2 separate regions of the Homo sapiens genome follow, and region 2 is linked to region 1. The links come from fine-mapping of genetic effects on gene expression. Tissue or cell type: spleen. Region 1 holds a variant in brackets; the other region holds the start of a gene. All regions are shown on one strand. Distances are between the middles of the regions.

What was found. PIP is the estimated chance that this variant, and not a neighbour inherited with it, causes the effect.
Region 2: KCNK17 starts here. The variant in region 1 is fine-mapped to the expression of KCNK17 in spleen (GTEx, PIP 0.93).

What each region holds. Positions count from the first base shown.
Region 1 is chr6:38,500,241-38,502,992 of GRCh38, reverse strand. All of the region lies in intron 6 of BTBD9 (BTB domain containing 9), which reads left to right. Among named protein-coding and RNA genes, the nearest start is that of BTBD9-AS1, 20 kb to the right of the region's middle. The variant C/T (reference allele first, on the strand shown) is at 1,551.
Region 2 is chr6:39,313,167-39,315,758 of GRCh38, reverse strand. KCNK17 (potassium two pore domain channel subfamily K member 17) reads left to right here and starts at 1,340. Exons shown (of 5, transcript NM_031460.4): 1 at 1,340-1,675. The coding sequence starts at 1,439. LOC105375047 (a long non-coding RNA gene) reads right to left here and starts at 1,803. Exons shown (of 3, transcript XR_926774.3): 1 at 1,535-1,803. It also overlaps a transcript of KCNK16 not described here.

The sequences.
Region 1 (2,752 bases):
ATCTGTTTCCATAGTGTGGAGCACCTACTTTTATATCACTTATCACATTGCGTTACAGTGATTTACCTGTTTTCCCTTTCAGAGTGTGAGTTCTTGGACAGTAAAGCTTATTTATCCTCTCTTCATGATCACCTAGAATAATGGCTGGAATGTAACAGGCACTCAGTTAACGTTCATTGAATTGAATCAAATTGCACAAGTATGGTCATTTTATTTTCCTAATAGCTCTTTCCCTTCATGAATCTGATGCCATATATTCTAAACAACTTATTCATTTCTGTGGGCACAGTGTGCTCATTAATGATAAGCCATCCTATTTCTGTGTTACGCAAGAGTAAGACCTGCGCAGAAGATGAAGATATCCTGCTCATCTCTGCAGGTTTGGTATTTGTGTATTTGCCTTGGGGATTTCTGTCAGCAGAATGTTTGCCTCGTTATTGACCTTGGTCTATAGGACATTCTCAGAGTCCTCTTCCCTTAGCATTCTTTCCCTTCAGAGCAAATGGTACTGGTCTTTGTGATTTGAACATGGTAGGAGGCTGGACATGGAAGAGAAAGCTTTTCTTTTAATAAAAACTCAACAAGCAAAATTTAAAAATCACCTTGCTTCCAAAATGTTGGAAATATTATACCAAAATGAAGAGAATACACCATGGAAAAAAAATGTACTCATATTGTTTCGTGGGTAGCAAAATGAAGGTAAATTAAGTGTTATTCATATTCCATGTCAGTAGCCAAAGCTCTGAAAGACTTCTTTAGGTTCCCTCTCAGACAGAATTATAGAATCTTCTGTTAGAACAGACCATGGTGAGCAGCTGGCCCAGCCACCCAAGCCAACATTTGAATCCCCTTTACAACATCCCCATCTGGCAGGTGTCCAGCATCAGCATCTCTAGGGATTAGCAGAGTTCTTGACAATAGAAACCAGCTTCTCATTGACACCAGGATATTGCAGATTGCTATCTCTATACCAGTAGTTCTCAAACTTTTGTTCCCAGGAGCCCTTTATTCTCTTAAAAATTGTTGAGGACCCCAAAGAGCTTTTGTTTATGCAGGATATGTCAATATTTATTTGTTGTCTTAAAAATACAACAGTAAACCCATTACATGTCAATATAGATATCATTTTTGATGAAAAATAACTATTTAAAAATTAATTTAATGGAGAGAGTAGCCTTGCAAATCTTAATGTCTGGCATAATAAAGAGAAGACTGCTGGATTCTCCATTTCTCATTCAATCTGTTGTGACAGAACAGGTGATGGAGCCTGTGGAAAGCTCAAGTGCACAGACATGGGAGGTAAATAACTTCTCTGAATTCAGAAGTTTTGATCTCACAGACCTCCCAGAAGGGTCTCAGGGACTCCCAGGAGTCCCCAGACTACATTTTGAGAACTGTTGCTCTCTTATACACCAAGGGATGGGATTGGTGATGTAAATTGGCAGGGACTGCAGTGAAAGAAAAACTAGATGCAAAAAGGGGCCAAGAAAAATGTACTCACATCTATGATCAACAAGTATTGAGTGTTTACTATGTGCCCAAGTGGAAAG[C/T]ACTGAAGATACAGGTTGAGTGTCCCTTATCTGAAATGCTTGGGACCAGAAGTGTTAAGGATTTTGAACTTTTTTTGATTTTGGAATATTTGTATTATACCTACTGGTTGAGCATTCCTAATCCGAAAACCTGAAATCTGAAATGCTCCAATGAGCATTTTCTTTGCTCATCATGTTGGCACTCAAAAAAGTCAGATTCTGGAGGATCTTGGATGCTTGGATCAGGGATACTCAACCTGCACTAACACTCGCGTCAGGTGTTCTCTGTCTTCTTCAATGTGAAGGCTCATTTTGGCCTAAAAAAATTTTTAGAACTGTAAGTTAACTTTTTAACTTACAGCATCCATTGAGAAAGTGAACAAAAAGCAACTGTGAATTTTGTTCTCGTTTTAATAAATTTCTGTTTTATTCATCACAGCAATATCTATGGACATTAGATAGAAAATTCATTAGAAAATGAATACTCTATATTGTATACATTAAACATTTGGTCTTCAGCCAGTGCTTTGTACCCATGGAGATCTGCAGAACCTTTGCAGATATATCTGTGCTTGGCCTCTGTACCTGCCATGTCGCCTATGACCCACAAGTTGGGAACTGAATTCACTCATCTGTTCTTGTCACTGGCATTAAAGACATTGAGTGATGGATTTGTTTTGGGGTTATTTTTAAGCCTTTAAGACTTTTGATGCCTTCAATTAAGATGGCCAGGTATCATAAAGAATTCATGCATGCGCTTCCGGGGCTTCTGGTTTTCTTGACTTGTCCTTATCTTGCTAAGAGCAATGGATAGGCATTTGCAGATCAGGCACTCTCACCTGCCCTGTAAGATGTTGCTCAGAGTTAATGGAAGAGAATTGTGTTGAGAGAGTTAATACTGAGTTAGAGAAAAGTGGAAGTGTGTAATAGTGCAAAGGGAGGAGTGAGAAATTAAATGGTATCTTTTTAGAAGTCTGCCTTATTGCAGTCTGCATTGCTCCTTGGGGATTTTTCTACTGAGTACAAGAAAATCAGCAAGCACTTTTTGAAAAACCCAGATGAAATTACTGCCGTAAATTTTTATTTTTTTTCATGGTATAAAACCCTTAATTTAGATGGGGAGGGTTTATTACCAGTGTTTTCTTGGCATGGCTAAATTCAATTAATTTCAGATGACAAGCTCCAGGTCCCCCCTACTACCACCCCTCTGCTGCCTTTTCCTC
Region 2 (2,592 bases), 810 kb before region 1:
TTTAGTTGCTAGGCAAGCAAAGAGGCAGCCCCAACACAGTGCCCAAAATGCTATGATGGGAATAGCCCCAGGGTTGATGAGAGCCCATGGGAATGGCTGGCAGGGAGCATCAAAGAGAGGGGAGACCTGGGCAGAGACTTTGGAACAATCTTAGTGAAAAGAGGATCTCTGCCCTCAGGAAGCTCTCAGCCGAGGGGCAGGCGAGCTGCCTCTCAAAGCTCGCCAGCTCCCCTTGCCTAGAAGTCCAGGGCTGTCTGTGAACAAAGCTTAGGACCTCTTGGGTGTCCTACCCACTTTCCTGAACATGGCCTCCCCTGACCCTCACAGGCCACCCCCTTAACTTCATCACTCCCTCTGGGCTCCTGCCTTCTCAAGAGCCTTTCCAAACACCCCATGGGAAGCCAGAGAGCCAGCAGATCCCAGGATCCTTCCAGAAAGTGAGCTCCATGAACGTCTGGCCTCTCTCAGGAATGCATTCTCCAGGTCTGGCCTTTCCCCTGCCAGACTGCAACATCCCTGACCAGGAGAGATTTAGACCACTCCATCCCGGGGCCTGGAAATTTTGGCCTTTGCCTCTCCCATCATCCAACAGCAAGTGGGCTCCTATGTGGCTGGGTTCCTCTGCACAGGTCTGAGGCAAGGCTGTGGAGCCAAGGCGGCTCCAGGCAGGAGACCCAGGAGAGGCTCTACAGCAGCAAGAGGAGTCCAAGTCACACCCCAGGACTTCCCCATATCCAAGAAAGGACTGGGAAGCTGAGGACCCACGGACTCTTCACACAGCCTAGACGCTTCCTCCACTCCAGGTAGAGGGATTTCGGGGGCCTTCTCAGAAGCAAGGAGTGGACAAGCCTCTTGGTTAAGGCTCCTCTTACCTCCCAAGCTCATGGACAAGTGGCAATCAGCTGGGGTCCCTCTTTTGGGGTACAAAGGAAAGGACAGAGGTGTGGGAGACCCAAGGTGGTCTTGAGATTGACAGACAGCAAGTCCTTGGAGATAGCCCCCGAGTCCAAGAACTTAGGCAGGGGCCCCAAGACAATAAAGTTGGTCTCTACTATCTCCTACCTCTGAGTGCGGTTTCCAGAAGTCCCTCCCATTGTTCATTTCAGGAAATGTGAGGGGGCTCTGGGCCCCTTCCCTCAGCGCCTGCGGTCACCCAGCAGCTTCCTCCTTCTCCCTGGCCTAGGCCTAGCAGGTGGGCACCCCGCACACATTTGAGGCGGGGCCAGATGCCCACAGTTCAGAGCCTCTTTTTGTCCCGGGGATTGGATCCCAGGGCTGGGTGGGGCCAGGCTGTCCCATTCCCCAACACTCCTCCTCCCCGGCGAAACCGGGCACCAGCAGGCGTTTGCGAGAGGAGATACGAGCTGGACGCCTGGCCCTTCCCTCCCACCGGGTCCTAGTCCACCGCTCCCGGCGCCGGCTCCCCGCCTCTCCCGCTATGTACCGACCGCGAGCCCGGGCGGCTCCCGAGGGCAGGGTCCGGGGCTGCGCGGTGCCCAGCACCGTGCTCCTGCTGCTCGCCTACCTGGCTTACCTGGCGCTGGGCACCGGCGTGTTCTGGACGCTGGAGGGCCGCGCGGCGCAGGACTCCAGCCGCAGCTTCCAGCGCGACAAGTGGGAGCTGTTGCAGAACTTCACGTGTCTGGACCGCCCGGCGCTGGACTCGCTGATCCGGGTCAGGGGCGAGCGGCGTCGGCCTGGGCGCGGCGGGATGGGGTAGCGGGCCGCGGGGTGTACGGGCCGAGGGCGAGGGGGCCTATTCAGGCCCTGGTCAGGTGTTTCCTGTTCAGGGAAACGTCGGGAACGCAGACGCGGGCACAACGGGGGTGGGCGTTCCTGCGCGGGGACCAGAGGGTTGGGGGACCTCGGAGGAAAAGACCCTCGCCCTAGCGAGAGGACTGCGAGAAGCCGGGCTGAGTCCTACTTGGGGGCGAGAGGGCATGCTGGCCCGGTGAGGAGGCAGATGCCTGGGGACACATCCAAATTTGGGGGCGAGGACGACTACGGCAGGGGGCGCGCGCGTAACCGGCCCCGCCCGGCCTGACCCGGGAAAGGGCGCGTTTGAGCCTGCTTGGGGGTTGGTCGCACCCGCACCCGTGGCAAAGAGCTAAACGCCACACCTGGCCGCTTCCAGAGGGGGAACCCGGGCGCACGTTTGCGAACTGGGAGCTGGGACGGCAGGGGCGCCGGGTCTAAGGATGCGCAGGAGCGAGGGCGCGGCCGTAGGAGCCTGGGGGAAGGCGCGTTTGTCCCGGAGGGTGGGTGGATTGGGCCCGAGGCGTGCTGGTCGGGGCCACCCTCAACGCAGAGAGGGGGCTCGACGTGCGCAGACCCGGGTTCGAGAGGAGGGCGGACGCAGGGCCGCTCTCTGGCTGAACCCGCTTTACTCCGAGTCTTCGGACACAAGGACTGGGCGCGCCGCCGCCGCGCGGCTGCCCAGAAAGGCTGAAGGCAGGGTTCAGGGGAGGACTCAGAGGTAAATCTGAGCAGAGGCTCCTCAAGGGTGGGGCCTAGCAGGGCGGAGGAGGCCGGGGAGGGTTCTAGGGGTGGCGCATCTTAGGACTGAAGCGACGCCAGACTGGCAGCTGCTCG